4 linked regions of the Homo sapiens genome follow. The protein of the gene in region 1 interacts with the protein of each later gene in a pairwise test. Each region holds a gene or a part of one and is shown on either strand. Other genes may lie near its edges. The genes, in order: THRSP, BCAR3, WT1 and LSP1.

Region 1 (8,786 bases):
TCAGGCTGGAGTGCAGTGGCGCAATTTCGGCTCACTGCAACCTCCACCTCCTGGGTTCAAGCAATTCTCCTGCCTCAGCCTCCCGAGTAGCTGGGACTACAGGTGCATGCCACGACGCCCAGCTGATTTTTGTGTTTTTAGTAGAGACGGGGTTTCACCATGTTGGCCAAGATGGTCTCAATCTCTTGACCTTGTGATCCACCTGCCTTGGCCTTCCAAAGTGTTGGAATTACAGGCGTGAGCCACCGCGCCTGGTCTATATGTGATTTCAAATTAGGTGGCCTTATAAATATAAGCAGATGGTTTCTGGGCAAAATCAAATGATTTCTGTCTCTATTTTCTTGAGTACCAATTGTAAAAACTGAAATTAGGTTGAGGAAAGTGCTTTAGAAATAATAAAGATGTACAAATACAAGGCTTTGGATTTTTTATTAGTTCTGCAATAAATAATAGGTTTATAGTTCACCTGTTGTTGATCTCATCAGTGGTCGCCAAGTAAGAGGGTGAATCACTCATCCCAAGAGACTCTGCTACCTCTTAGCTCTGGAGGGTAAAAAGCAAGGGCCAGAGCAAATACATTGGGGAGAGGGGGAGAAAAAAAAAATCAGGCTATTTTAATAGCCCTCACATGCCAAGTGCTTTTGATTCATCATGTTTAGTTTTCATAAGCTTGTGAGGTAGATAATATTATCCCCATTTTATAGATGAGGGAATTTAGGCTCCAATGGGTTAAATAACTTGTACAAGTACACATACTGAATGACTGCCATGAGGAGGGATGTGAATTTTGGTCACGTGCCAACACCTACACTCTTCCTACCATACCACACTGGACAGGTAATTGTCTAGTCCCTCCTGAACCACTGGTCACCTCCCCAAGCTGTTAAGAGGAGCGAGGGGAGCAGTGAATAGCAACAGACATTCTAAAGGTGAGCCAGTGACTGGAATCCAGGAATTGGTGCTCAGGAGGTAGAGAAGCATCCCGGAGAACTGAGCCGCCTTCACTTCTGGCTGCAGGTCTAGGCCTTTCTGCTCTCATCATTGGCTAGTGAACTGCTCCGCCGACCTCATCAAAGAGTCTGTCTTCTATCATGTGAAGGGATCTGTGGAGTGAAGAAATTTTTAAAAGGCCAAGTCAGTATCAATTCAAACAACCAAGATACTGTCACATGCCCATTGAAGCAGGAAGAACAATGCTGATGTTGCTGTTGGAAAACTGGCAGTGCCTCAGCACTGTAAGGAGAATCCTAGGTTGTCAGAGCTGGAATAACTCATTTGATTTCTCTGCTATATTTTACTAACAGGGAAACAGATACAGAAAGGTAAGATAAGTTGTCTAGGGCCGGGCGTGGTGGCTCACGCCTGTAATCCCAGCACTTTGGGAGGCCAAGGTGGGTGGATCATTTGAGGTCAGGAGTTCGAGATCAGCCTGGCCAACATGGTGAAACCCTGTCTCTACTAAAAGTACAAAAATTAGCCAGGCATGGTGGCGTGAGCCTGTAATCCCAGCTACTCGGGAGGCTGAGGCAGGAGACTTGCTTGAATCTGGGAGGCAGAGGTTGTAGTGAGCCAAGGTGGCGCCACTGCACTCCAGCCTGGGTGACAAGAGCAAGACTCCATCTCAAAAAAAAAAAAAAGGTTGGGTGCGGTGGCTCACGCCTGTAATCCCAGCACTTTGGGAAGCCGAGCGGGGAGGATCACAAGGTCAGGAGATTGAGACCATCTTGGCCAACATGGTGAAACCCCATCTCTACTAAAAATACAAAAAATTAGCTGGGTGTAGTGGCGTGCACCTGTAGTCCCAACTACTCGGGTGGCTGAGGCAGGAGAATTGCTTGAATCGGGAGGTGGAGGTTGCAGTGAGCTGAGATCGCGCCACTGCACTCCAGCCTGGCAATAGGGTGAGACTCCATCTCAAAAAAAAAGTTGTCTAGGATAATACAGAAGTCAATGGAAGAGCCAGAACAAGAGCCCAGATTTTTAACTGTTGCTATACCATATTGCCTCTGAATGAAAATCAGGTTAGGGTGTGTTGAAACGTTATGGCGTAGAGTTGCTGCTCTGGCCTTTGAAGCAACTGAGTGAGTCAGAGTGTGGTTTCTACCCACTCTGCCATGCCCAGTTCCCACTTTGAGCCCACTCTGCAAAAGTCTAAGGCTCTAAGGAATACCACTGTAGAGGAAAAGAATTAGACTAATTAGGCCAGGGTTCACATCTTGGCTGTTATTTACTGAGTAAACTTGGACTCATTTTACTTCTCAGGCCTCCAGTTTTCTCATCTGCAAAAGGGAATGATAGGCTGGGCGCGGTGGCTCATGCCTGTAATCCCAGCACTTCGGGAGGCCGAGGCAGGTGGATCACGAGGTCAGGAGTTCAAGACCAGCCTGGCCAACATGGTGAAACCCGGTCTCTACTAAAGATTTTAAAAAAATTAGCTGGGTGTGGTGGCACACGCCTGTAATCCCAGCTACTTTGGAAGCTGAGGAAAATCTCTTGAACCTGGGAGGTGGAGGTGGCAGTGAGCTGAGATTGCACATTGCACTCCAACCTGGGGGACAGGGTGAGACTCCGTCTCAAAATTTAAAAAGGTGGGGGGGGATGATAATTCCATTAGATAATGGATATGCAAAGTGATCTTAAAACTATTCAAATGCCAGTTGTTAGTTTTACAACCACTGTTATTATTCAGTGAAGAAGCTGAAACCCAGAGAAATGAATTAGCTTGCCCAAGGCCCCACAGCTCATTAGTGATAGAATCAGAACGTGAACCCAGAGCTGTTGACACAGCCCCATCTAATTCAAGAAGAACCTCTGTGAGGCAACTCAGGGAGCCTCAACGGGAGAGGGAAGAAGGGTTGAGGTTGACAGTTTGGGTTTGAAGCGGGAGAAGGAAAAATGGCTGAGAAAATGCCTGGAGCAGAGCTCTCCATAGGCTCTGTGTTTGGGGGTCCCATGTTTATTCCGCATAATTACAGAGCAGCCTTCACACAGATTATGAAGATAACACAAAATGGCAGACAGTGGGTACGATGGAAAGAACACTCAGCTCAAAGTTGAGGCCAGTCTTACTTTTGTCTCCTTACTGTGTGACTTTGGGTGAGTCACTTCACCTCTCTGGCTTCAATTTCCATACTAGTAAACTGGGGATGAGAATCTTTTCCTACATAGCTGCATCAGGTGGTTTTGAGATTGCAATGGACGTGGATGTTGTTTACAACTAATGAGACCAGTTTGTGGGAGCAGGGCTGGCAGGTGGCACAGAATCAAAACTGGCAGGTGCTGTGGTCCAATTTCTATTAATACTAGTCTTTATCCATGAGTGAACTAGTGGTGACCATGCTAGGGCCCCTTCCCACCTCCTACCCTCTGCCACCACCTGCTTGTCTAGCTTGCTGCTCATCCACACTCACCACCCCAGCCCCTCTGTGCATAGACATGTAGGCTTAGACTGGAACACATATTCATATGTACATACAACAGGGCTTCCCAACAGGCATGTCTGCATACTCCAGTTTGCCTGGAATGGATTAGAGTGCCATGACTGGTCCCTCGGCTTCCCGTTTGGTGGGTTCCAACCTGGGATGGTCAGAGTACCCCCAGCCTGTTGTAGCAGTACTGCAAGCAGCCTCACCTATGTATCCCCATGTGCCATATAATAATTTTCCATGTTCTGTGACTTGAAAAAATGTTGGGAAACACTGTCACACAAATGGAATTCACAATGTTCACTTAAATCAATGTGCATGCCTTAGGTAAGTTTTTTTTTTTTTTTTGAGATGGAGTCTCCCTCTGTCACCTAGGCTGGAGTGCAGTGGCACAATCTCAGCTCACTGCAACCTCTGCCTCCCAGGTTCATGCCATTCTCCTGCCTCAGCCTCCCGAGTAGCTGGGACTACAGGCACCCACCACCACGCCCAGCTAATTTTTTGTATTTTTAGTAGAGATTGGGTTTCACCATGTTAGCCAGGATGGTCTCAATCTCCTGGCCTCATGATCCGCCCGCCTCGGCCTCCCAAAGTGCTTTGGTGTGAGCCACCGCGCCTGGCCCCTCTTCAATTAAATTCTTAACAAAGTCACTGATGAGAACACACTCATTCAATTCACACATTTACAAGCATTCACATACTAATAAATGCACACATGCACAAACACATATATGTGCATATGAGATATGCCCTCACAGGCCACTTTTCCCTCTGTTTCCATATCACTTCATTGCAATTGCCAATTTGAGGTCAGAAGGATAGTAACACAGGCCTAGTCTTAGGCCCTCCTAGGTTGTGGTCCCAATACCCTGACCCAAGAGTGGCTCTGTCTGAAAGTCAGGCTGTTCCTCTCCCAGTGGGTTGCACCACTGCCCCCTCTCCTCTCCTGGAATGTCCCTTTGTAGACTCACACCCACCAGCATGGCCACCATTACCTTCCCTAGTGTCCAAGGTCTACCAAACTTGTCCCGTCATTTCCTGGTATTTCCTTGTCACCTCCTGGGCTTTCTCGGTGAGGTGCATGAGGATGTGATGGAGGCTGGAGAAGTGCAGGTGGAACTGGGCTTCCAGGTCCAGCTCTCCTGAGGCACTCTCGTCCTCGACTTCCTCTGTCTCTGCGGTTCCATTCTCTTCGCTGCCTGCCACCTTGGCCTGCCACTCCTCCCGCGGCAGCAGCCCATGGTCCACATCCACACAGATGGCCTTGAGCATGGTGAAGTAGGTGTAGAGATCAGGGGCCTCAGCCTGGGCCTGGCCCCCAGGCCCACTCAGCTGCACGTCCCGCAGAAGGCTGGGGATCATCACCACCTGCTCCATGTTGTGCACCTCGGCTGCATACCGGTCCATGACGGTCAGCAGGCAGTTCTTGGGGTAACGCTTGGTTAGCACCTGCATGGTTGCTTCCTCTGACACAATGAGACCAGCAGACTGCCCCCGCACTATTTCTAGGCTCTCGGCAGATTGACAGGATGCCAATGCCCAGCTGTTGGGTCAACACAGCCCTGTTTTGGGCCAATCCCAGGGCTCAGGCCCCAGCATCTGTATCAGGTGATCCATCTGCCCAGAGACAGATCTGCCAGCCTTCTACTTGTCATCCCAGCTCTGCATGACTGCCCCAGCAAGAACCCGACTCTTCCTCTGTCAGCTTGCTGAGCCAGTTGGAAGGAAGCTTTTCCCTTTGGCAACTGGTATACTGGACTTCAGGGCAATAAATAATTCTTTCAGGTCACTGGAGACCAAGCTGTCTCTTTGCTGCCTGCTTAGGGCAGCCCTCCAAAGCACAGTTCACTCCTTCAACCTGGGGTGACTCCATTGTGAAATGGAGAGGATTTGAAGTGAAACAGCTTGATGTGGGGCAAGGAACACTGAGGTTGGAGTCAGAAGCCCAGTACTGCAATTTCCTAGCTGAGTTTTTTTTTGTTTGTTTTTTGCTGGCTAACATTTATTGAGCACCTACTGCACATCAGGGTCTGCTGAGCTTTTTCGTGAGTGATCTCATTTAATCTTCACCACAACCCTTGTAAATGTTTTATTTATTTAATTTTTGTAGAGATGGTCTTGCTATGTTGCCCAGTCTGGTTTTGAACTTCTGGACTCAAGCAATCCTCCCACCTCAGCCTCCCAAAGTGCTGGAATTGCAGGTGTGAACCACCAGTATTCCTGTTTTGCCAGTGAGGAAATTTAGGTGCAGACAGCTAAAGTAACTTGCTCAAGGTCCCACTGGGGCTGGGATTCCAGCCCAGGACCACCTCTACCCACCTCCAGGCAGTGCTGTGGACTGACATGAGGTTACATAGTCATACAAGTTAACCAGATCCATATCCTCTGTAAATTTGAGGTGGTGTGAGGATTGAATAAGACAAACTAATAAAAATGCTTTGTATCAGTCCAGACAAGCGGCTGGGATCAAAAGAGGAAAAAAAATGCTTTGTAAACCACAAAGCCCAATCCTCAGATGTATTATCTATGCAGATTCTAGATTATTGCTAAGGCTTCTCCCAAATCTAACCAGTCATTCCATAAGCTACAATGCTTCCACTTTATTACTGACCTTTCCTTGGACCAGCAGTCTTGGAAGATAATAATCTTTTGCGTGGTCATATTGTCATAGTTTACAAACTGCATTTGCTATATATTTTTTATTAGATATTTAAGAAAATGGCCGGGCGCAGTGGCTCACGCCTGTAATCCCAGCACTTTGGGAAGCCCAGGCGGGTGGATCACGAGGTCAGGAGATCGAGACCATCTTGGCTAACGTGGTGAAACCCTGTCTCTACTAAAAATACAAAAAATAAGCCGGGCGTGGTGGTGGGCGCCTGCAGTCCCGGCTACTCGGGAGGCTGAGGCAGTAGAATGGCGTGAACTCAGAAGGTGGAGCTTGCAGTGAGCCGAGATGATGCTGCACCACTGCACTCCAGCCTGGGCAACATAGCGAGACTCCGCCTCAAAAAAAAAAAAAGAAAAAGAAAAGAAAAGAAAATGAAGGCCTGGGGAAAGGCCCAAAGTTGCACAACAAGTTAGTGGCAGAGTCAAGTGGAGAATAAGACATTCTGAATTCTGGCTCAGGTACCTGCCTCCTCCACTGCCTCTGGTGAAATCTGCTGAATGATGATACCTCCCACGCCTGCAGGAGAGGAGAGAGGAGGAGGGAGCACAGGGAGGGGACGTGGGGCTGAACAGGGCCTCTGTGTTGTCTCACCTAAGCCACCCTCACCTCCACCCTAGGGCAGGAGCCCACTCTGCACCCTCCCAACTGACAATCATTCACTCCTCTGCTCCCTCCCACTACAGCCAGAGCTATGAAAAAGCTTATCTTTAGACTGAACAAAATTCCGCCTCCCAGCCCGGCATGGTGGCTCATGCCTGTAATCCCAGTACTTTGGAAGGCTGAGGCAGGAGGATCATTTGAACCCAGTAGTTTGAGACCAGCATGGGCAACATATGAGACCCTATCTCTACAAAAAATTAATTTTAAAAAATCAGCTGGGTGTGATGGCACATATCTGAGGTCTCAGCTACTCAAGTGGCTGAGGTGGGAGGATTGCTTGAGCCCGGGAGGTCAAGGCTGCAGTGAACTGTGATGGCACCACTGCACTCTGGCCTGGGTGACACAGCAAGACCCTGTCTCGAAAAAAAAAGAAAAAGAAAAAAATATTCTACTTCCCTATAACCCCTCCCCTTTAAATTGTAATATTTACCCCACCCAGAGTTACTGGCCTTAACTATGCTTATGTTGGCACAGCAGAGTGGTGTGCCAACTCAGTTTCCACAGGGGCCCTGAGACAGAAAAACATAAGTATCCCAAGATAAAACTGAGACAAAACTGAGACTCAGAAAGGGAGAGGTACTTGCCCAAGGTCTCATAGCTCGGACATGACAGGAGTAGGCCTGCCCTAGTTCCATCAGACCTGAGAGGAAAGCAGTGATCTTCCCTCTTGTCAAGTCCCCTTGGCAGGCTGGCCATGCATAGCCACAGATGACCTGAAGTCACCCTGTGTTGACAGTTGGCCTTGCTTCTCCAGGGCAGAACAGGCAGCCAAATCCAGGTCTGGGCCAGCTGCAGAGGGCAAAGCTTCCACCTTAACCCTCTGTGTACTGCAAGTGGTGGAGGGAAACAGAGAGCACCAGCCTCCCTGAGCCTCGACATCCTCATATGTTGTAATAATGATAAGGGCAAACAATAACTGAAGACATATTATTCTAAGCTAAGTTATATATGCAAAGTTCTTTTTTTTTAACCTTGAGCTTTTTTTTTTTTTTTTTTTTTTTTTTGAGACAGGGTGTCACTCTGTCGCTCAGGCTGGAGTGCAGTGGCATGATCTTGGCTCATTGCAACCTCCGTCTCCTGGGTTTAAGTTAGTCTCCTGCCTCAGCCTCCCGAGTAGCTGGGGCTACAGGTGCCCTCCACCACACCTGGATAATTTTTGTATTTTTAGTGGAGATGGGCTTTCACCATGATGGCCAGTGCTGGGATTACAGGTGTGAGCCACCGCGCCCGGCAATATACAAAGTTCTTAGAGCAGAACAACAATTGTATGTGGTAGGTAGACCCCATTTACAGATGAGGAAACTGAGACCTGAGACGGTAAAGCAATAAGCCAAGGAACACACATTATTCCTTCCTTGGCAAAGAGGAGTTGAAATGTGTCCTGACTCTTCCCTACGGGTGTGATGGGGTGAGAGATGATATTTATGAAATGCCTAGGAGACTGCGGGACTCAATAAGCAGACACTGAGCCAGGCGCGGTGGCTCACGCCTGTAATCCCAAGCACTTTAGGAGGCCGAGGTGGGTGGATCACCTGATGTCAGGAGTTCGACACCAGCTGGCCAACATGGTGAAACCCTGTTTCTACTAAAAATACAAAAAATTAGCCTGGCGTGGTGGTGGGTGCCTGTAATCCCAGCTACTCGGGAGGCTGAGCAGGAGAATTGCTTGAGCCCAGGAGGTGGAGGTTGCAGTGAGCCTAGATCGCACTACTGCACTCCCGCCTGGGCAACAGAGCAAGATTCCATCTCAACAACAACAACAACAACAAAAAATAAAATAAAATAATAAAATAAGCAGGCACTGCCTTCTTTCTAGCAGATTCTGCCTTCTGACTCTGCTCCCTGCATTCCTCATTTATTTCTCCATGCCTGGACTTGCCACTCTACATTTCATCACTGCAAATGCTCAGTAACTATTGGCTGTATGATGACCATTAGATTTACTAGTTTTTTTTTTTTTTGAGACAGGGTCTGGCTCTGTCACCCAGGCTGGAGTGCAGTGGCATGATTATGGCTCACTGCAATCTCCACTT
Region 2 (8,002 bases), on another chromosome or scaffold:
CAGCCTGGCATCTGTGCTCATCTTTAGCAGGCCAGAAGTTACCTGTCTTTGCTGCTCACCTCCTGCATTCTTGCCCCTTAAGTGCCAATTATGCGATGTTAACAATCCTGTGCACAGGTATGCACCTCCATGTTCACCCATTCCAGCAGTGGCTGCCTGCCAACTTTCTGAGCTGGGAGGTCACCCACCTAGATTTTGTGGAGCCGGTCCAGGGCCTTCTAACCCCCAGGATACCCCAAGGAATGTCCTAATCTGGTGACAGAAGCAGTTCAGGGCTCTCTAGTGGTTTCTATGGAGATTATCTGGGCCTCCACTTATTTTCTTCTTGTACTACTGCAATTATGGAACTGAGAATAATTCTGAACTCTTGTTCGCCTAGCTTTGCACCAACACCAACACTGTTCTCCTCTCAATGTGCTACACTCCAGCCACAGGCCATTCCAGTTCCTTTTGGGGTTTTCAAACATGCCAAACTTGCTCCCATCTCCAGTTCTCTGCACTTGACTTCCCCATGCCTGCAACAGCCTGGAAGGCCCATGGTTGCTTTCCCTCATTATACAAATATGAGCTTAAATATCATCTCAGAAACCTGTTCATCCTACCAAAAACGTACCACCTCCAATAAATCTCCAGCATATCACTCCATTTCCTCTATAGCATTTGGTATAATCTGCAGTTGTCTTATTTATTTGTATATACTACCTAATGCGCTCACTAGAATGTAAACTCTGGGAAGATATTGCTTCAGATGCTCCACTGCTACCCTGTTAGTCCACATATTTCCACCACCCTATAAAAGGGCAAGAACAGATTGCTCAATAATTTGGCTGCTAGAATGTTTTCAATGCTGGACCAGCCCTTCATTTAAGATAATCAGGACTGAGCAGAATTTTCCTGGTAAGCCCTGGGGCTTATGAAATCAACATACTCTAATATAGGTGCTCCATATATAAATATTGAACAAATAAATGAGCTAGGATCCAAGTGGCTTTGCGACAAGCTTGGACAAAAAGAGAGATAACAAAAGAAACAGTCCCATTCTTTACCAGATAGCATCACAGGCTGCTGATCTTCCCCAACAGGAAAAGGAGTGCAGTTTCCAAACTAGCTCTAACAGGCAGAAACCAATCACAGCCAGGCCCATTACAAACCCAGAGAAAAAGCATTTACAACCATAAGGCTCATTTACCCAGATCTCTGTCACAGAGAGGGAAAAATCAATTCTTGTCCTAAAGTATTCTGAAGCTGACCTGCTGGTGCATCCACATAAAATTTTATTTCAGCATGCTGACAACTAAATATAAGGAGATATGGGGTCTAATTTATAGACATCCTGGCATCTCTATAGAAGTGGATGGACATAGTTCAGAATCTGATGCTATGATAAAAAGAAAATACTTGGGCTTTCTTTTAAGGGACTTAAGAGAGGAAGCTGGATTTTAAAATATCCTCAAATGTTACATAATGTTAAGAAGTGGTTTTTATTTAGGTGTTATAGTTTTTTTTACATTGTGGTTATACAGTTTTTAAAATAAGAGTCCTTATCTTTGAAAGGAACATACCAAAATATTTCCAGATGAAATAATATGAAATCTGAGATTTGCTTCAAAATAATACCAAAGGAGGGAAGTAGGTGGGAGTACAGACAAAACGGGACTGGCCTTGAGCTGGTAACTGTTGGAGCCGGCTGACAGGTGCATGGGAGTTAATTATTCGCTCAACTTTGTGTATGTTTGATGTTTTTCCTAATAAAAACTTCGGAGTCTCACTCTGTTGCCCAGGCTGGAGTGCAGTGGAGCGATCTTGGCTTACTGCAACCTCTGCCTCCCGGATTCAAGTGATTCTCCTGCCTTAGCCTCCTGAGTAGCTGGGATTACAGGCACATGCCACCATGCCCAGCTAATTTTTGTATTTTTAGTATAGACAGGGTTTCACCATGTTGGTCTGGTCTCAAACTCCTAACCTCATGATCCACCCATCTCAGCCTCCCAAAGTGCTGGGATTACAGGTGTGAGCCACCACGCCCGGCCATAAAAACCTTTTAAAAAGCTGTTTAAGACAAATCATCTTCACTAGTGAAATTACAGAAGTTACCTGAAGGTGAAGGTTTCGCCGTGCCGGTCCTGCCATGGGCTCTCCTGGATGCCATCCTGGGTCACAGGCGAGTTCTGCCGTGGGGATTTGGAGTGGGGGAGGGTGCCCATGTGACTGAAGTCATCACAGGACCTTATGGGAGGAGGACCTTTTTTCTTCCGTGGAAGGGTGCCATGTATAGACACATCTTGATAGGCATCTGGGCGATGCTCAGCGAGAGGGGACCTGCTGCTCAGAAGGTCCATGGATGAGGCCAGGGGGAACTGGTGATTCACCGGCATGTTTCTGGGAAGGCTTGCAAATTTTCCTGCAGCCATAATTCTCAACTCTAAGGGGGAAAGAAAAGAGTGAAGGTATAAATCTATGAGAGTCACAAGAACTGACTTCCTACTTACAAAAGGAAATGGAAATATGCCACATAAAATGAAATATTCACAGACCATTAACAGATCAACATTTAATGGCATCACTAGTGGAGTCTAATAAGAATGGGAAGTTTACTTATCTTCCTCCTGAAATGATCCTACATAGGAATTGTCCTGGGTTGGCAGCAAAACCAAGAGGGCAAACACTTTCAGAGTTGTTAGAGGCATATAAGCCATGCACAACCAGCAAAAAAAGATGATTAAGAGAGGACTCATAGTTGCAGTAATAAATGTACGAAAGAAAATATTATAAACTGTTAGATAATTAGCTCACATTATTTTCACTGCCCTGTAAATGATAAGAACAGGCAGGGATTATTGAAATTCTTTAGCTGCTAGAATTGTCTTCAGTGCCAGACCAGTCCTCAGTTGTGCTACACAGGATGGGACAGAATTTTTCTGGCAAAGACCCAGTGTTTATAAATAAATCAATGCACTCTAATTAGTGAACACGGGCTAGGGTCAGGGTCAGGAGGTGGGCCATTCTGCCATACACCAGCAGGCTCAGCTGCAGAGGAAAGCCACTGGGGTGGGGGCTGCATGTACATGGCCCCCACAGAGGGGTCAGGATCTGCCTGCCACCAGCAGGGTTAGGTAATGCCCATGGGTGCCTGTACAGTCGGGGAAGAAGAGACAGGAGAAGGGAAGAAGAAAAGAAAAAAAATGGTGGGGGGCAAAGGAAGCATGGAAAGGGAAAGGAGAATGGCACGTCAGGCTGTGTGCAGCAAGTAGCCCCGACACTCTCTCCTATCTAGGACCATGAGTAGAAGCATTTACCCTGAGCAGAGTCAGTGCCTCCAGCTCCAAAGCAAACTATGGTTTTGGCCTAAGACAAATTATATAATACATTTTTAAGGCCAACACACAGAGGAAAAGAAATAGGAGACAAAAAAAAAAAAAAAAAAAAAAAAAGGCTGGCCCCTGGAGATAGAGGCTCCAGGATCTGTCTTATACTAGTCATGATATCAGACTCTGGTCTGGACAGCACTGCAGGGTGGCCAAGCCCAACATACAGCCCTTCCCACGGGCTGGTGAGGAGAGCTGCCCCTTAGTCTGTTCTCCAACCCAGCAGCCCTCTTTCCTCACAAACCACCCTTTCCACTGCATTACTCAGGGAAGAGCTTTGCATGAAAATCCTCACTTAATAGCACTACTGCAGAGTCAGTTCTACAAAGGAACTGCGGACTTGGGACGTGGTTTGAAGACAACCAAGAAGAATGCAACCCTCCACAAGCTGATAGAAGTGGAGCCGAGACAATGACATTAGAGTGTGTAAAGAAAACGCATGTGTTTGTATGTGTGTGTACAACAAAACACACACGTTCCACTGCTTCCACATGAGATAGGGGAAAGTACAGAAGTCCTGGGGGTGAGATGGAAGGAGCATCTTTACTGAAGGTGTACAATCTTAACTCTGTCCTCGGTTCATTGTCAAATCCAGTAATTCTGGGGGCTGCCTGCTCCACGTCCAACTGGGACCACACAGAAGGTCTGCTCACAGTGGGTGCAGAACAATAGGACAGAGTCCTGTGCAGCCCCTCCCAGCTCTGGCCAGTACCTGGCACACTGTCAGCACTTGCTCAATGCTAACCATCCTTATTAGAAAGGAAACCAAACTCCCTAGCCCCACCGCCTGAACACAAGTGACGTAAACCGACTAGGATTCTTCCACCCTACACACACACATACACACCACAGTTGTGACTTCTCACAGACAGGACTGGGTCATTTCAAAGAACCTCGTGGGGAGGCCTGCAGCACCCTACAGAACTTCTTCATGTGCATAGGGCCACACTGTTGATCAAATCTATTTCCAATAGCATGATGGGCAAAAGTCACCCTAGCACCACTGCCTTTGGCAGCCTGTTTCCTCTCTGCTTCCCCAAGATCTACTTAGACTTCAAGATTGTCCTAAAGTGTTCTAAAATGTCCTTCAAGTTACCAACACCTCAATTTATTCTCCAATAACAAGGGATGTTAATACTTCCCCTTCTTACCTTCAATTCAACAAACATTTAAGTGCCTATTTCATACAAGACACCTGGAGAAACAAAGATGCCTAAGGCCCAATACCTGACTATGAACTCTAAGAGAGAATAATTCATAGAGGCCCTTATGCTGAAAGGAACAATTAATTTTGACAAAAGGACTTGAGAAGGCTCAGAGAGGGCAACAATAGAGACAAAGCATTTTGAAAAGTTAACATGTGGGGAAAAGCCTCCCGGGAGGATGGCAGATGCATAAAGGCATGGAAGTGACCCCACAGGCTCAGGACATTCCCAGTTGTGTGCTGTGGCTCGAGTGAAGCCGAGAAGCATTTCCCAGAAGCAACTTAGGTTAGCATCAGACCATGGAGTCTTGAAGGCCCTGCCAAGGTGTCTGGACTTGACTGGAAGTGCTAGGGAAGATCTGGAAGGGAAGGACCGAACCCAGTCTGTACCCAAGTAGGTGACTCTGGTTGTTCTGGAGGGGAGAGAAAAAGGAGGCAGGGAGGTTACTGAGGCTGATGGTGAAACCCATGGAGGAACAATGAAGAATTCTGACCTGGGGCAGCAGCTGGGTAAAGGGAGAGAAAGGAGAGAGTGATGAGACATCAGAGCTTGAGGCATCTGGCTGGAAGGAAGGAGCCTACAGCCACAGAAGGTGGTGCGATGCTGTAACATGCCAACTAGTTTCAGAAGGGGACCCACCCCTGCAGGAACCAAGCACAGCACTGGAGCTGCTGCATGTGAGGTATCAGCAAACAATTTGGTCTAAGAGGAGGTTAGATACTGGTATGCACAATTAGAAGTGAGGGCAGATGGAGATTTTTAGGAATCATCAACATAAAGGCAATATTTAAACCAGAGAGTAGATCCCTTAACTTGTTATTATCAGATGTGATAACAGCTGTGAAGTACCTCTTAAACTGTCAGGAATCATACAATACCCATGAATTATACCCCTGCTCTCTCTTACCATGGCTTCTTCAAGCCTATAAGGACCAAAGCAAGGAATGAGTTCTACTATAAAAACGTAAACCATTGGTTCTCAACCTGGCTACACATAAGAATCCTCTGGGAAGCTTTTAAAATCCTGATGCCCAAGCCTCAGCCCAGAACAATAAAATGAGAATCTCTGTGGGCGGGACATTAGCATCAGTCTCCAGTATTGACCAATGTGAAGCCAGGATTGAGAACCACTGGATTAGTGAGTCTTTTTGGTACACAGCAATTGAGTCATAATTGTTTACCTGCAAAACAGAATTCAATGATGATGAAGGAGTATCATTCAATCAATAGAAACATTGATTCTTCAATGCATACATTCATGGAGGGTCTCCTTTATGGCTGGCACTATGCTAGGTGTTGGGGACAGCATTAAACAAGACAGAAGTGGTCTGTCCTCATGAAGCTAATAATACTCTGGAGGAAGCAGACAATAAATTATGACCATAAGTACTGGTAATTCCCAGTCCATTTTTCTAGATAAGGGAAATAAATGTTCATTTGATATATATTCTCTGAGGGCTTATGGTGTACCAAGGCTAAGGATATAATAAATTAGACAAGCTCCTGCTCTCATGGAGGAATCCAACCTATACAAACAAGAAAATGAGTTAACATCCAAGTTGTAAGCACGCTAAGGAATATAAACAGGATGAACTGACAAAGGATGACTGTTGCGGGTGGAGAGCTACTTTACATTAGGGTGGACTGGGAAGGCCTCTCTGAAAAGGTAACAATGACATGAGACCTGAAAAAAGGCAAGGGAAGGAGCCAGTCAAAAAAAGGTCTGAAGGGGGTTCCAGGCAAGGGATCTGGCAAATGCAAAGGTCTTGCCATAGGAACAAGCGGTTGGAATGACAGCTGATGGAGACTAAACCCAAGTCTCCAGCCTCTGGCTCCCATGTTTTCTCCACTTGGAAATATTTCTGTCTCAATGTCCCTAGTCATTATATACTTCTTATGTACCATTTGATTTTTTAAAAATAAAATGGTATGACTCAGAACCTAGGCTTTGGAGGCAGATATCTACAGGTTCAAATCTCTACTCTGCCACTGACTTACCAGCTGTATGGCCTGGGACAAGTTACTCAACCTGACGGTTTCTCATTTTAAAAAATGACTTAACAGCTATTTCATAAGATTGTTGTAAAGATTAAAAGTGATTGTGTATACAAAGTTCTTGAAATACTGCAAACACTTAGTAAATAGCAGGTCCCCTCTAAGCAGGACAGGGGCTGCTCTTATCTATCTTGTCAGATAAGAGTCACTGTATCTCTGTTATACTGAGGGTTCACAAAGGAAGTAACTCTGAGAGTTCACAAATGAAGACTGCAACTGGGAAGGATGGGGAGGGAAACGTTTTAACCTAGAACAATAGATGCAAAGACACCAAGCCAAGTAGGACATGGACACGGACACAGACACAGACACACGTACAGGCAAACCAAGTGAGCCTACATGCAGTCTTTAGAAAAAAGCCCAGGTGAGACTCTGGCCATCTGACTTCTCTCTACTGTGCAGGAAAACAAACACAATGTCCTGACTCAGTCTAATGCCAGATTTTGAAATATTATACAAAAGTCAAAGACTCTGCATCTTGATATGAAAATCTGAGACTCATGTGAACATCAGGAACAAGAGCGAGGCTGACAAACTTTACCACATGTGCTGCCTTCCTGGGCCTGGTCAGTCGCTGGGCTTTGAAATGTTTGTGAACTGAGGCCCAACTCACTTGCTTTACAATGATGTCTCAAAGAAACTGATGATCTTGCAAGCTGAGGCAGAGATAAGCAGCCCACTTGTTTGGATTTTACTCTTTTATTTCTGAAACGGGATATTTTCAAGTTTAACTCATAATGGTTATCTGATGTGAGCTTTAAGAACTTTTCATTATATTTTAAACTCTGGAAATGTAACCGTCTCGGCTGCCCCATGACAGAGAATTTACAACTTGGATCTGTAGTTTTATAACTTCTCTGGAGAGTCAGATGGAGAGAGGAGATGAAACAACCACACATATTCAATTGGCTTATCCACTTAAAATGAAGTTTTGCTTGGGTTTAGGAATTAAGAGTATCTCTTTATTTTTGAAGTAAACTTATGAAGTCTAGCCAAATGATTCAAGTATGAATAATTCCTCCATGGATTGTATTTCAAGCAACACAGTACAGGATTTACCCGATAAGGTTCTTAAGATTAGCATCCATTTGACAAGCAGTTCTGCCTATATGAACAGGAGATTTAGACCTTGGTTAGTCATCCTGGAAATGCCAGCCTTCTCAGCAGCACTTTAGAGAAAGTTGGAGTTGGAGTGGTGTGGGATCCCCTGGCTTGGCAAGGTCTTTACGTTATCCTCAATACCCCCTGGCACGCCCGCAGACAAGCGCTTTGCCTGTGGGCTTCCCATTGTTACCCGGGTAGCCCCTTCCCACTTGGACCTGTGTTGAGCTGGGCCCCACCCCCAGCACTGAGGCCTCTCCCAGCCTCCAGGATCTC
Region 3 (6,857 bases), about 46 Mb from region 1:
GAAAATGGTACAATAATTCCATCCCCAGCGAAAACGAGCATAAAAAAAGAAGGGAAGGGTCAGGGGGACATGATCAGCTATGGCTCTTCTTACAGTAGAAAATCCACACCAAATGGCAATGGGCTTTTAACTAACCAGACATTGTTAGCTGCTTCTCCAGGGCCTGTGAGTCAACTAAAAGTAGGCAGGGCAGAGACCAACTCTTCCAGGCACACCTGGTAGTTTCCAGAAGCACCGGTATCTTGTCTTGGAAGTTGGATGAAGAAGATCAACTGAAGTTTCCTTTTTAGTGAGGAGGAGTGGAGAGTCAGACTTGAAAGCAGTTCACACACTGTGCTGCCTGGGACACTGAACGGTCCCCGAGGGAGACCCCTCAAAGCGCCAGCTGGAGTTTGGTCATGTTTCTCTGATGCATGTTGTGATGGCGGACTAATTCATCTGACCGGGCAAACTTTTTCTGACAACTTGGCCACCGACAGCTGAAGGGCTTTTCACCTGTTGACACAATTGCCAGTCAGAGACACTTGCAACAAAGAGACAGGCACAAGTTCAACTATCAAGGCCCGAGTGAAGTCATCACAAGGCACCCACTCTGAATTTCCCATCATTCTGTCCCTGAGCTAACCAACTGAGCTCATTTCCCAGGCAGCCTTGAAACAGCAGCACCTCTTGGGGCTTTAAGGATCGAAATATTGTAAAAAGTTATATTCTTAGGTCAGAAAACTTGGAAAGTGGGAGATAAAGAATGAGTCAAGTTGGGGGAAATGTCTGAGCAATTCATAATTAAGGGGAAAAACGTTTGTTTCAGTCTCTGCTGATAGAATGTTTTGTGAACTGTGTAAATTTCTCCCCCTTGTTGAGTAAGTTGGGAACTGAGATGAACTGGGCTGCAGAAGCCTCTGGGTCATCTACCCTGGGTATTACTGAGTGATCACTGTCCAGGGATCTCAGCTGTGACTGAAGCTTTTAACACTTCTATCTGTGTAGATACCCTGGATGGGCTGGATACTTTAAAATAAATCACTGATACCAGTTTACATGTTATGTGTTGTTTTTTTTTTTCTCTTAAAGTGTTACTGAGAGCATAATCCTGTTATATGGAAGATTCTAGTTGGGGCGTGGTTCTTAGATTTTTAATAAGCTTGCCAAAAGATTGAGGCTTCTCCACCCAAAGAGCCCTCAGACATTCTTTCCAAGCCTCATTCTCATTAGGGAGAATAACTACCATTTATTTGATGCTTAACATATGCCAAGCCTTGTGCTGGGCTTCACACACGCACACACACAACCTCATGTACTCCTTACAACTGCCCGTAGGGGAAGCGTTATTATCCCCACTCTACAGATGAGGTAGGACATCTATTGAGGGCAGATCCAGGCAGAACTCAAATCTCCAGGTCTGTCGAATTCCAGAGCCCGTGCTCTTCCCTGTATCACACCTCCCAGGCCTAGCCATGATGGAAAAGCAGCTGCAGCTCCATCTTAAGGAAGAATGCACAGAAGCTAAACCCTGTGCCACCTGACGGATCTTCTCAGATACTGCTGGTCCCACTTGGCCTTCTCTGAGAACTACTGGTTTGGACAAGCACTGAGAAATGTCCCAGGAGGGCTGGTGTCCCAGGGTCAGACTGGAGGCCAATCAAATGTGGTATTAAACAGTCTGCTGGCAAAACAGGTCATGTCACACTTACTTGGGGAGTGTGACAGCCGTGTCAAAGGGACTATAACACTTTGCCACCGAATTATGAGCTCAGGACTAAGTTAAAGAAGCATCAAAGGCACCTGAGGAAGGGAAGCAAGATCCCATCCTGCCAACCATGGGCCACAGGTGCCTTGGCTCTGTTTTTAAATGCAGCCAATTTGGGCGAAGAATCTGGGGCTGCTCAGGGGTTTGTGATGTCATGTTTTCCTTCACTCGCTGTTCCTCTGCTCTTCCTGGCCTGGCTCTCACTCTCCAACCCCACCTCCAGCAGTGCTGTTAAGGGCTGGCTCCTAATGGACTAATCCCAACCCTGTCTCTTGTCATCTTCATTCCTCTCAGTCTCTCAGTGGTGTTCAGCTTTGCTGACTTTGATTCTCTACTTGACTCTCCATGCTCCCTGGACTGCAGAGTAAATATCTGCCCCTTCTCCAATAAAGAAGCAAGTGGGACAAGGTGGGCTGGAAGCAGACAGAACTGGATTTGCTCCTTACTAGCTTTGTGACTTTAGATAAGCCATTGAATTATTATTGCCTCAGTCTCCTCATCTGTAAGATGGGAATAAAACATGCCTACCTCATTTTTTTTTGTTTGTTTTGTTTTGTTTTGTTTTGAGACAGGGTCTTGCTCTGTTGCTTGGGTTGGAGTACAGTGGTGGGATCACAGCTCACTGCAGCCTCAGCCTCCCAAGCAAGGTCTAGTGAGCGTCCTACCTCAGCCTCCCCCAAATAGCTGGGACTATAGGTCCACACCACCATGCCCAGCTAGTTTTTGTATTTTTTGTAGAGACAGGGTTTTGCCATGTTGCCCAGGCTAGTCTTGAACTCCTGGGCTCAAGTGATCCACCCACCTCATCCCAAATAGCTGGGATTACAGGCATGAGCCACCACAGCCGGTCCTACCTTACTCTACTTACAAGCATGTTGTGAAGATAGACTTAGATAAGCTAAATATTAACGCTCTTTCCAAAGGTAGAAAATATGCAACAAAGGTGGTGCTATTTTTATTATGAATCACACCAGCCTTGCAGAAAGCAAAAACCTTCAGCAGCCAGTAAATGAATGCCCTATTCTCCTCTCTGTACTAGTATGAAGGAAATAATATCCACACACTGATACTGGTCCAGCAGAAACCAAGACCGCTCCTGGTGCATTAACTTTTAACAGAGCAAGGACTCAGTTCTCTGAAAATAGTGCCATTAAACATGTGCTCTCAGAAGAATAAATATTTGGCTTGCTAGAATTTCTGCTGCTTTTCTGTAAAGTTGATTATCGTATCAAAGAGAGTAACAAAATGTGTGATGCAACAAACTGGAAACAGTAGGGACCTGGCTTATCTCTTCATTTTCATTCTGCACACTCCAGCCATTCTTTTCCCATCTTTCTCCTTCTCTGTATTTCCACCCTCCCCTTCTTTAAAAAATGTTATTATTTATTATTTAAAGATAGCCACGCACTATTCCTTCTCTCAACTGAGTCTAAACCTTAGAACTTTTACACTAGTCTTTTCCAATCCCTCTCATCACAATTTCATTCCACAATAGTTTAAAAAAATAATGAAAAATAAATGTGAAGAAAAGTTTACGCACTTGTTTTACCTGTATGAGTCCTGGTGTGGGTCTTCAGGTGGTCGGACCGGGAGAACTTTCGCTGACAAGTTTTACACTGGAATGGTTTCACACCTAAATGGACAGAGAAGGTCTAGCCTCGGCCCTAACAATGTGGGCACAGTGAGGCCCACAAGGCTGACTTCCGGCAGCTGGAGGAGCCCAGCATTTCCTGCCATGCCTGCAATGTCTGCATCTGCCTCACCCTTAGATTTCCCCAGTCCCCCAGGCCCAACAAGAATCACTGATTCTGCACAGTAATCTTCAAGGACCTGCTTCTGTCTTGGGAACAACCATTCCTTAACCACAGAGGTCCAGCTTCTCACCAGCTGGAAGATCTCAGCTGTGTCAGAGACAGGAAAAGTGAATCACACGCTACAAATTGGATTCCGCTCTCCATCACCCTCATTCTTTGCTGATGCTCAGTGTATCATCAGCCCACTGCTAGTGGGATCTCACTGTTCTGTGGTTTGCAGGGGAAATGTGGGGTGTTTCCTTTTCTTTCTTTTTCTTTATTTAAGAGGAGGAACATCTCCAGAGATTATGGGGGGAAAATACTGGAAAAACTAAACACATGGCTGACTCTCTCATTCATATTCAACAACAAAGAGAATCATGAAATCAACCCTAGCCCAAGGGAACACAGCTGCCAGCAATGAGAAGTGAACCTACAAACCTGTATGTCTCCTTTGGTGTCTTTTGAGCTGGTCTGAACGAGAAAACCTTCGTTCACAGTCCTTGAAGTCACACTGGTATGGTTTCTCACCTTGGGGAAGACACATATTCTATTTGAAAATGATACTGGAAAAGGGGATCTCATTAAAGGCAACCTCTCCTACTAGGACTGAACAGATCCCAAAATGCCTAAGGCACTTCGCTGGAGCTTGTTAGGGTAGGATGATCCCCAACTTGCAAGTTACAAATGAATGGGAGCTCAGGGGCCAGAGGATTCTGCCCCAAGGCTCACATCTAGCTCTGCCATTAAAAAAAAAAAAAAAGCCCTGGGTGAGGTGTGGTTTCTTTATTGTAAAATGGGTCCAATAATCCAACAACTTTAAAGGATTTATGACCTTCACATAAAGGGCTCAGCCCAGAGCCTGGCATAGAAGGCGTGCTCAAAAACTATTAGCAAATAAAAAACAAAATCTTTAACTCCCAGGCAGAATCTGAGGCAGAATTCTGGGATGCATGTGCCTTGAGGTCAACCTCATGAAATAAGAGTTTTATGTTTTAGGGCCCAAAGATCTGGTGTTCTTTGCTACTGACTCCTTGTTCTTGCATCAAGCAAATATGACTCCATGGTTGTGAGACCCTCAAAACACACCAAAAGCACTGAGAAAGTTTTTGGTGTGCTTTATCCAAGAGAAGTCAGTAGTGGGATTACCCAACCTCCTGTCTCAGAATGGAGAAGCCTCACCCCTGTCCTCACTAGAGAAAGTTCAGCCAAATACTGGGACCTGAGCCCCAAGAGAAGTGAGCAACCCCAGGCCTTCCCACCTTCTTAGGAGAATCCTGAGTCACAGGCATCTGGGATGGAAACAAGCCATTCTAGAATCAGTCAGGTCTTTCTGTTGCAAAGGCAGCCCCCTGTTACCTTTCCAATCTCAAAGCCTGGGCTATTTCCCTCATGAATCTCTATTCCCCACTATGCCAGAGCTCACATCCTGAAGTCCTCCTTGCACTCTGCTCACACTAAATGTCCCCCATCCCTATCTCCACATCGAAAAGTCTCCTGGGTGTCTCCTTCTTCTGCAATGCCTGCTTGGAAACTGCATGGGCCAATTTCCCTTCCTTCCCTCATTACGACATTTATTCCAGGCTGTCTAATGTGGTGAGCTGTGTCTGGGTCTACAATTCTACAATTCTTCAATGGGTTGGAAAATCCTAAGGGCTGGAGCCTTTTTATTTTTATTTTTTCTCAGAGACAGAGTCTCTCTCTGTTGCCCAGACTAAAGCGCAGTGGTGTGAGCCTAGCTCACTGCAGCCTCGAAACCGTGGGCACAAGCAATCCTCCTACCTCAGCCTCCTGAGTAGCTGGGACTACAGGCATACACCAGCACACTTGGCTAAATTTTTAAAAATATTTTTTTTAGAGACAGGGTCTCACTATATTGCCCAGGCTGGTCTTGAACCCCTTAAGCAATCCTCCCGCCTACGCCTCCCAACATACTGGGATTACAGGTGTGAGCCACTGCACCTGGCCCCTTTCTTTGTATTTGTATCCAGGTTGGTGCCTTATGTTTCACCTCTGTGAGCTGGAGAAGATGTTACCCCTATTGAGTCTGATTTCCTTCCCCTGCCTTTGAGCTTCTGCTCATCTATCACTTTCTCTGCCCAAACTACCAGCCTCCACTGGCTAACCCAAGCTGTTCTTCCTCTGAGAAACTTTCTCGGATGACCTTAGTTCAAACTGATACCCTCCAAACCCCTCGGTACCTCCTGTCTCTGATTTAGTACATGATCATGTACTCTCTCAGTCACTTTTCATTTCTTTATATCCTAGCTCCCAAACAAACCAGGAACTCTTTGAGAAGGAGGATTATAACCTGCAGTTAAAAAGAAGGAGTTTGAGTCCTCTTTCTGCTATATCCTATACTCTTCATAAATGTTTTGTGAGTGAGGATTAAATGAAATATACATGTAGAGAGCCTGACACCCAAAAAGTACTTAATATAACAGTCTGTACTGTTGTTATAAATAAATAAGAAAATATTGCTCTCTTTCAAGGGGGACTGTAGGATTGTTAAATACCAACCTGCCCTCATCTTCTGCAAGGAAGAGTTTCTTAAAGGCTCCAGTGGGTCTGGGGTTTTGGCTGTCTTGTTCACTGCCTTCCCTTCACACAGTTGTCTAACCCTCACTGCATTCTAAGTGCTTCTCTCTCACTAAAAGTTTCTACAACCATATTGCCTTCATTTATTCCCTTGCATTTTTCAGGCAGGACTTTACTTTCTCGTTTTCCTTATAACCTTGACAGTCACTTTTCAAATGATCCCATTTGGGGAAATGTGTAAAAACATAACATGCCACTGGTCCCCTCCTTTTTAGCCTCAAAGTCTGTGGCCCACTGAGTGCAAACTCAGATTGACACCAGAATTGCATCCTCTGGACACAGTGAATTAGCAAATTTCAATGGTCCAAGGAAATCTGAATGCAGCTCACTTTTTTCTCCAGCTTCCCAAGAGCAAAATCAGCAGTAATAACACAGTTGCAACAGTGATCCTATAATAATGCTGTTCTTCGATTGTGGAAAAGGCAGCAGTAGCTCCTCTGTAGGAAAACCTGGGTTTTACCACACTCCCACACTCCCACCTAGTGCCCACAAGGCCCAGAGTAAACGTTCTGTGACATGGCTGTCCACATTCAAGGTGGCCAACACCAAACAATGCCAGTTCTCTGTTTCCCAGAAGCAGCCTCTCTGACCTGGGGGAAAATCCAGTTTCATTGGCGTATCTTCAAAGATAAAAAATCATCATCTCTCTCTCTCCTTTTTTTTTTTTTTGGCAGAGTCTTGCTCTGTCGCCCAGGCTGGAGTACAGTGGTAAGATCTCA
Region 4 (8,002 bases), about 76 Mb from region 1:
ATGTCCTGTGAGGGACAATATGGGAGAGTATTTGATGTCAACTCCACTGTTATGTGTGCGCTCATCCATTCACCCACTCATCCATCCATCTACTCATCCATCCATCTCTCTGTCCATCTCTCCATTCATCCATCAGTTCATCCATCCATTTTACCCATCCACCCACCCATCTATTCATCCATCCATTTATCCACTCATCCATGCATCCGTCCATCCACCCATCCACTCATCCATCCATTCATCCATCCATTCATCCATCCATCCATCCACTCATCCATCCATCCACCCATCCATTCACCCATCCATCTATTCATCCATCCATCTATCCATCCACCCATCCATCCACTCATCAATCCATCCATCCATCCATCCATCCATCCGTTCACCCATCCATCTATTCATCCATCTATCCATCCACCCATCCATCCATCCACTCATCAATCCATCCATCCATCCATCCATTCACCCATCCATCTATTCATCCATCCATCTATCCATCCACCCATCCATCCATCCACCCATCCACTCATCCACTCATCCACCAATCCATCCATCCATCCATCCATCCATCCATCCATCCATCCATCCACCCACCCATCCACCCATCCACCCATCTATCCATCCATCCATCCATTCACTTATCCATCTATTCACCTATCCATCCATCCATTTACCCATCCATTCATCCATCCATCCAACCATTCATCTATTTATCTATCCATTATCCATCTATCCATCCATTCATCCATGCATCTATCCATCCACCCATCCATCCATCCACCCATCTATCCATCCATCCATTCATTCATCCATCTGTCTATCCATCTGTCTCTCCATCCTTCCATATATTTATTCAATAAATCTGTACTGAATTCAGACACTTTGAAGGTGCTGGGGATTCAGCATTAACAAAGTCCCTGCTCTTATGATGATCATGTTTCAAGTGTGGGAACAAACACATAAATAAATAAAGGTCAGATGATGGAAAATATGACAGAAAATATAAATCAGGGTAAAGGCATATGGAGTTCTGGAGGGGATTGATATTTTACGTATGATAGCCTCATGGAAATAAGTAATTCTTTCCTTGGGTCTTTATATATGAAAGCCTCATGGAAAGAAGTAATTCTTTTCTTATTTGAAAAGAGATGAGAGAAATGGGAGGAAGTGTTCCTGGAAGAGAGTGCAAAATTCCTGATTTAGTAGTGTCTACTCACACATCCGTCTTTCTAATAGTTTACTCAGCACGGATTCAATTGTCTATTGATTCATTATCTATCTATCTTTCTACTCATCTCTTGTTATATCCACCCACGTATCCATCTATTCATCTATTATCCATATCCATCCATATGTCTACTTCTCCTGACATCCTTCTATTAATCTTTCCAATCATTTATATGTCCATATTCCAGCCATCCAATCATCCACCCATACATAATTCCATCTCATGTGTCCTTCCATCAATACATTCATTTACCCATTTATACACCCATTCATCCATCATCCATTCATCCATAAATCCACTCATCTTTTGTTTTGGTACATTTGCTCATTTAGCTGTTGGGCTGATGATCAGCCAATATGCACAGGTACAACACAGTTCAATATAGGAATATATATAATCAGCACCCATTCCAGTAGATTCATATTTGTACCACATGCTTTGTTAAATATTCTAAATATCACATCTGCATTTATCTATCCACCCATCCATTCGTTCTTTCATCCAAACATCCATATATACATACAGATGTTCTTCTGTCCATCCATCTATTTTTTGTTCATCTGCTCATTTGTTCATCCATTCATCAATTACTAAATAATTCTTTCTATTTATGCATGAGTTATACTCTATTTATACATGAGTCCATCCAACCCATTCATTCATCCACCCCATCCATCTGCCCATCCATTCACCCACCTGTCCATCGATCCATGCACCTATCCATCCACTCATCCCTCCATCCATCCACCCATCCATCCATCATTCAATTATCCATCCATCCATCATTCAATTATCCATCCATCCATCCATCCATTTGTTCCTACTTCCTATCATTCTTCATTCATCTTTCCATTCATTCATACTGTTCTCCATAATTGATTCTTTTCTAATCTTTATTTTTCCTTTCTTATGCAACTAAGACATGGTTCATAAGCTCATGGCCCAAGGATAAAGCAGACCACCATGGCCCAGGAGGCTGAACACCTCAATAGAGCCTAAGCAGGGGCTACAGGGGCAGGGATCTGTCTTCATATTGACACATTCTCATCATCCCCGACACATACCTGCGAATGTATGTTCACAGAGCAGCATCCCAGTGAAAGGTGCTTTGAGCACTGAGAGAGCCCATGGGGACAGGGGAGGTCAGGGTGGTGGCCTCATTGGCTCCCGAGTGATCCCTGGTGGATAAATGTCTGTGATTTAAAGAGGAGGCAGCCTCCAAATGCTTGCAGCATGCATCTGTTCAGTGTGGCCCTCTGTTCAAGCAGGCACTGCTGACAGCAGGAGAATGGGCCAGAGCCACGGGTAGGGGGCAGGGTGGTGGGTCATGGGTGCTGGGGGCTGGGGGCTGGGGGCTGGGGGCTGGAGGCTGGGTGGTGAATGGTGGGTGCTGGGTGGTGGTGATGAAGCTCAGATTTTGGTTGGGACTGGGTCTAAGAGAAAGGCTAAAGGATTATTTCTAGATTCATCTGGAACGAATTGGCTAGATCCTTCTATCCCAAGTCCCATTGCTTTTCTGAGGGGAGGTACCTGGGACAGGAGGAGGAGGCAGCCTTGCCTCAGAAACCAAACTGTCAAAAGTGTAGGTTCCACTCAGGAAGGAGGAGCACAGGCACTTTTGAGATGAGGGGGACGTGCTCTTCTCTGGAGCAGAAAGAAGCAGTAGGTGAGGTCCCACCTGCCAGGGATGGAGCAGGAGAGTGACCCCTGCATAACCTTGAATCCTCATCTGCAGCCCATGAGCAGCTGGAGACTGGGGACTCTGGGAAGGGTACTGGGCTTAGAAGCCACCCCCTGCCCCAGTGGACAGAGTATCCTGGACACCTCAGCCACTCTCCCTGAGCGTGTGGTGTGTGTAGAGGCCCCTGCGTCTATACCACTGCTCCCAGGGAAACTGGGAACCCAGGAAGTATGCTGGAACCCTTCATGCTGTGACCTACAAATGCCCCACCAGAGCGGCCCTGCTCCAAGCACTGAGGTCAGGGGCCCATGTGCCTGCCTCCTCCTGCCGGGGGATACAGGGGACTCAGAGGCCCTCCCTGCCACAAACTCCCTTCCCCGACAACCCACAAGCAGCTTGGAGGCAGTTAGCAGATGGAGTTAGGATAGGACTTGCCTGGCCCCAAGAAAGGGCCAGGGGCTTTCCTCCTGCCACCCCTGCTCAGCATCTCCCTCCTCCCTTGTCTGCCTGTGTCTGGCACTGGTGGGGCCGTGCTGGGTGGGACACGGCTAGGAGGCCTGGCTTTCTCAATCCCCTAATCTCCTATCAACCCCACCCCCATGCAGCCCCTCCAACCTCTTTTCAGGTCCCTAGATGTTGGGGAGGGGATGGGGGCTGGGCCGGCTGTAGAGAGTCTAACCCTGGGGAAGGGGCCCTGCTGGGCTGCCCCCTGGCCGAGCCTCTCCAGCCCGCTCGCTTCCCTCTCTTCTAAGTATCAATACAGCCTCGTCCACAGCCAGGGCCTGGTTCTGTCTGCCTCAGCGCATGTGGAAAGCCCTCTTCGATTGCCTTATGGTCCTGGGCTGCCATCTCCCAGAAGGTCTTTAGTGGCCCCCAAAAAGATGCTGAGGGCTGGGATTTGGGCGGGGCTGGGCTGGAGGGAAGTGGAGGACCTTGCTGGTCCTGCAGCGCCCGGTCCCAGTTCCGCTTTTCGGGACGGTCCCTTTAAGTGCTTGCTGAGCTTGGGCCATGAGCAGTGCTCTGGTGCTCTTGGGAGCCTTTGAGTCCAGAGTGGCTGGTGTGTGGTGTGGGGTCAGAGAGACCCCGGGAAGGGCAGCCCAGCCCAGCTCCCTCCTGGTGCCCGCAGGTCTTGTGGGCCCTCAGCACCCGAACCCCACAGGGGCAAGGACTCAGGCCCCTCCCCAGGCAGGGAGCAGCCCTTGGACAATGCACTTGGCCCCTGTGAGCCTCGGTTTCCGTCTGTGAAATGGGAGGCTCCAGGGACCTGCCTCACAGCTCCGGGGGATGAAACAAGAGCCTTGGTTTAAAAAGCTTGGCAAAGGCAGGGCGCGGTGGTTCATGCTTGTAATCCCAGGACTTTGGGAGGCTGGGGCGGGTGGATCACCTGAGGTCAGGAGTTCAAGACCAGCCTGGCCAACATGGTGAAAGCCTCTTCTCTACTAAAAATACAAAAATTAGCCGGGGGCAGTGGCAGGTGCCTGTAATCCCAGCTACTCAGGAGGCTGAGGTGGGAGAATCTCTTGAACCTGGAGGGCGGAGGTTCCAGTGAGCCGAGATTGTGTCACTGCACTACAGTCTGGGCAACAGAGCGAGACTCTGTCTCAAATAAATAAATAAATAGCTTGGCAAAGACTGGCATGGAGTGAACGCTTGGTCTGAGTGGCTACATTCTGAGTGTGCAGATGGGGAAACTGAGGCTTCAGAGGGGTGCGGCTTACTCATCCAGAAAGCACTCCGAGGGCCTATAGCAGCCGAAGCAAGGCCAGCCCTGGGGCCTTGCAGCCCATCCCCCTCCCGCCGCCCCAGCAGTGGGATCTCAGGGGCTGGGACTGCAAGGCAGAGCTCACGCCCCCACCCCTCACCAGGCTGAGGACTCAGAGCGGGAGACCACTGGGCCCTTTCCACTGCCAACACCCTCCTCTTCTCTAGGGCTCACCCATCCCTCTGGCACGTTCTCAGGGAACTGAGGTGGAGACAGGCTGGCCCGTAGGGTAGCGGAGCAGAGGCCCACCATCCTGCCACCCCAGGGTGTCACCGGCCAGGGCCTGTCCCAGCTGGACCCCAGACCCTCCTGGCACTGCCCTTGTGTGGCTCCAGGATTGTTTTAGGAGACACGAGGGAACCAGGAAGGGGGCGCAGGAAGAAAGGATTCTGGCTTCCAGAATCAGCGGGGGTGGGGCCTGTGATGCTCCCACTTGTGCGACCAGCCCAGCTGGGTGTCGGTGGACAGCAGCGCCTGCCAGCCCACGAGGAAGAAGACATCCTTCTGCTTCCCTGGGAAACTTCCAGATGCCTCAGACCCCTTACCCAGGGCAGGAGGAAGGGGACCTCCCCAGGGATCCTGGGTCCAGACATCAGGTCTTGACCACAGGAAGGTGTAGGGAGGGAGCCCCAGGGCTTAGCCCTCAATCCTAACCTCCCTCAGCAGCCCCTGTGGGGCTAGGGCTGGGGCTGAGGTGGCTTCCCCAACTGTCCCCAGCTCTGCCCTCTTTCCTGAGCAGTCGTGGGCACCGCTGGGGGCTCTCAGGGCCACCTGCCCCAGCGTGGAGCATTGCACATCCTCCAGGTGGTGCCTGGCCTTGGCTCGGAGGGCAGGTGGGCGGGAGGGCTGCCCAAGGGCCTGGCTGCCTGGGGGGTTCCATCCCATGGGCTCCTGCTGCTCAGATGAAGACTTCCAGGGGGCTGCCGGGGGCCTCCAGCCCCTTCCTCCTTCAGAATCTGGAGCTCTGAGGGTCTCCAGGGACAGATGGCCAGAAGGAACCCTGCCAGAGCAGCCCCTCAGGTCATCCCTGCCCTTCCCAACTCAGCTCAGCACACAGAGAAGCGAGGGAGGCTCCGATGGGCCAGGCGGGGCTCCAGGACTGGCCCTGTCCATGGCAGGTGCTGCCAGAGCCCTGGGCAGCGGCCTCCCACCGCGGGCTGGGCAGGCCTTTGAAGGTCTGCAGAGGAGCAGGGCGGTTGGGTGATGCTAGGAGGGGCATGTGCCAGGGCTCTGACACCTTCCAAAACTGGGAAGAGCTGGGAAAGCTGGTGGGATGGGAAGTGAGTTCAACCAGGCCAGGAGGGCCTGGCATGGCCACCCAGGGGCATGGAGTTTGCCTGTAGCTGGTGAATGGTTCTTTCCGTGGGAGACACGGCCTGGTCGCTCATGGGGAACAGACTGGGGGTAGGGTCATCCTGATGGGGGCCTGGGCTACACAGGGGCAGACTGAGAGGGCAGCCAGGGTGTCTGTGGGACAGGGTGGCGGCAGGCAGACTTGCCTTCTAGGTGTGGACATGGGGTGGGCACGCCTGGGCGGGTGGGCACCCCCGGGCAGCTGGGCCAAGGACAGGCACTGCAGCCAAAAATGCAGTGTGACCCCAGGGAGGGTACACCCCTGCAGAGCTGGGCTCCAACATCTGGATATGTCGAACCCAAGGTCTGAGAGGGCAACCTGACCCTCCCCAGCTGTGGACCAGGACGCCCCGTCCTCATCGCCTCAAGGCCTCCAAGGCCAGATAGTTCCTCAGTGTGGGGAGAGCCTTGCTCTTGGGGGCTATAGAGGGCAGGCATCCCCCAGCGTCACCAGAGAGTCCCCCCAGAGCCACAAGGCAGCTCTGTGAAATCCTCGTCCCTGCCCCCAAGGGACAAGGACAAGCTAGTGACTGTCTGCTGGACAGCGGGGCGAGACAGGAGTGCCCCCGAGTGGAGGAACCGCAGTCCAGCCTGGCTGGTAGCCGAAGCGGAGCCTGGACCCCGCCCAGGGTCAGGGGACCTTCTTTGGCCTGAGGCCTCGTGGGAGAGGACAGTCCTGTCCTGGGGGCATCTGAGAGACCACATCATGGAGGGGTGGTTCTGAGGAATCTGGCCCCGTCCCGGGCAGTCTGAGGGGAGGGGCCACATCATGCGACAGTCTGAGGGGCTGGACCCACTTGTCCAGCTGGAGGGGCTTGGCCTGCCCTGGACCTAGTGTTGAGGGCATGTCCTGAGACCGTCACAGGCTGGCGTACCTGGCACTCTGTGACATGCACGGGGGGCTGTCTTGTCCACTGCTCCAGCCCCAGCTGAGCCTGCCCAGCCTGGGCCTTCCTGGGGACTCCCGTGTGGGGGCTTCCCAGGCCATACATCCCTGCCTGGGTGCAGGGGACTTCTGTCCCATCCTAGACAGGAAACTCCCCGGTTCCCTTAGTCACCTTGTGAAATGAGAAGCCTACCCCACTGGGGCTCTCAGTTTCATTCTGAAAGGTCAGGCTTGGCTGCGCACCCCATGCAATTCGCGGGGGCAGGGGATGTCCAAGGAGGGGGTCCAGGCTTTGCAGAGCCCAGGAGAACCGCCGCTCTCCAGCTGGAGCGCCTGACAGCCCCGGCACAGGTGCAGCCCTGGCCTCCCAGGATCTGCACCAAGATGCCCCAGGATCATCTGTGCCTTGGCCATGCCCGCTCCAACCCCCCCTCCCCGCTCCTGGCCCGGGGGATCCAGGGCATTTGAGACAGCTGGGAGGGGGTGGCCAAGGATGAGGCCAAGGAGGAAGGCGGGGGTGCCCCAGCCCAGAGGCTCATGTCCTGCCCTTCTATGGGCATGAGGTGACCAGGAGCAGCACCTAGTCCAGGGCTGGGGGTGGTGCTGACAGGAGGGCCCGTTTTGCAGCTGGGACACAGCTGTTGTGCACCCAGAAGCCTGTCTCCCTGCACACGGCCTGGGCAGGGCATCCTCCCACCTCTCCCTGGGGACAGGCACGGACGTCCCGACCCAGCCCTCAGCCAGCCCCGGCCTCTGCTTAGCCTCCACTCCACTCACGGCACTCGGGGTCCCTTCAGTGGCCCCCCGCACCTGTACCCAAGTGGGATTTGGCAGCAAGAAGTCAGAGATGCAGACCCCTCACACATACCAGACCCACAGCAATGTGACGGCCACCAAGGACACAGACACAGGACAGTGACTGCAGCCACCAACAGCACAGGAGCTTTGTGTGAAGGCCGGGAGGTGGTCCCTGCACCGCCCCGGGTCGGGTAGACCGGGACCCTCTGCTGTCAGCACCAAGGCAGAGACTGGTAGCAGCCCTGGCTGCAGTTTTGGGGTATGTGAGCGTCACCCTGGGCCTCCTCTCAGGTC

What was found.
Region 2: the proteins of THRSP (region 1) and BCAR3 interact in a two-hybrid assay, tested with the Homo sapiens proteins (one large-scale study listed by BioGRID and IntAct).
Region 3: the proteins of THRSP (region 1) and WT1 interact in a two-hybrid assay, tested with the Homo sapiens proteins (one large-scale study listed by BioGRID and IntAct).
Region 4: the proteins of THRSP (region 1) and LSP1 interact in a two-hybrid assay, tested with the Homo sapiens proteins (one large-scale study listed by BioGRID and IntAct).

Annotation. Positions count from the first base shown.
Region 1 is NC_000011.10:78,059,976-78,068,761, reverse strand, and holds THRSP (thyroid hormone-inducible hepatic protein), read right to left. Parts: upstream 4,902-8,786; 5' UTR 4,881-4,901; coding exon 4,440-4,880; 3' UTR 4,421-4,439; intron 1,104-4,420; 3' UTR 411-1,103; downstream 1-410. UniProt on the Homo sapiens protein: Plays a role in the regulation of lipogenesis, especially in lactating mammary gland. Important for the biosynthesis of triglycerides with medium-length fatty acid chains.
Region 2 is NC_000001.11:93,672,520-93,680,521, forward strand, and holds part of BCAR3 (breast cancer anti-estrogen resistance protein 3), read right to left. Parts: intron 7,731-8,002; exon of another isoform or gene 7,710-7,730; coding exon of another isoform or gene 7,685-7,709; intron 2,423-7,684; coding exon of another isoform or gene 2,412-2,422; coding exon 2,095-2,411; intron 1-2,094. UniProt on the Homo sapiens protein: Acts as an adapter protein downstream of several growth factor receptors to promote cell proliferation, migration, and redistribution of actin fibers.
Region 3 is NC_000011.10:32,388,685-32,395,541, forward strand, and holds part of WT1 (Wilms tumor protein), read right to left. Parts: intron 4,072-6,857; coding exon 3,982-4,071; intron 3,381-3,981; coding exon 3,288-3,380; intron 496-3,287; coding exon 374-495; 3' UTR 1-373. UniProt on the Homo sapiens protein: Transcription factor that plays an important role in cellular development and cell survival. Recognizes and binds to the DNA sequence 5'-GCG(T/G)GGGCG-3'. Regulates the expression of numerous target genes, including EPO.
Region 4 is NC_000011.10:1,854,283-1,862,284, reverse strand, and holds part of LSP1 (lymphocyte-specific protein 1), read right to left. Parts: intron 2,822-8,002; exon of another isoform or gene 2,749-2,821; intron 1-2,748. UniProt on the Homo sapiens protein: May play a role in mediating neutrophil activation and chemotaxis.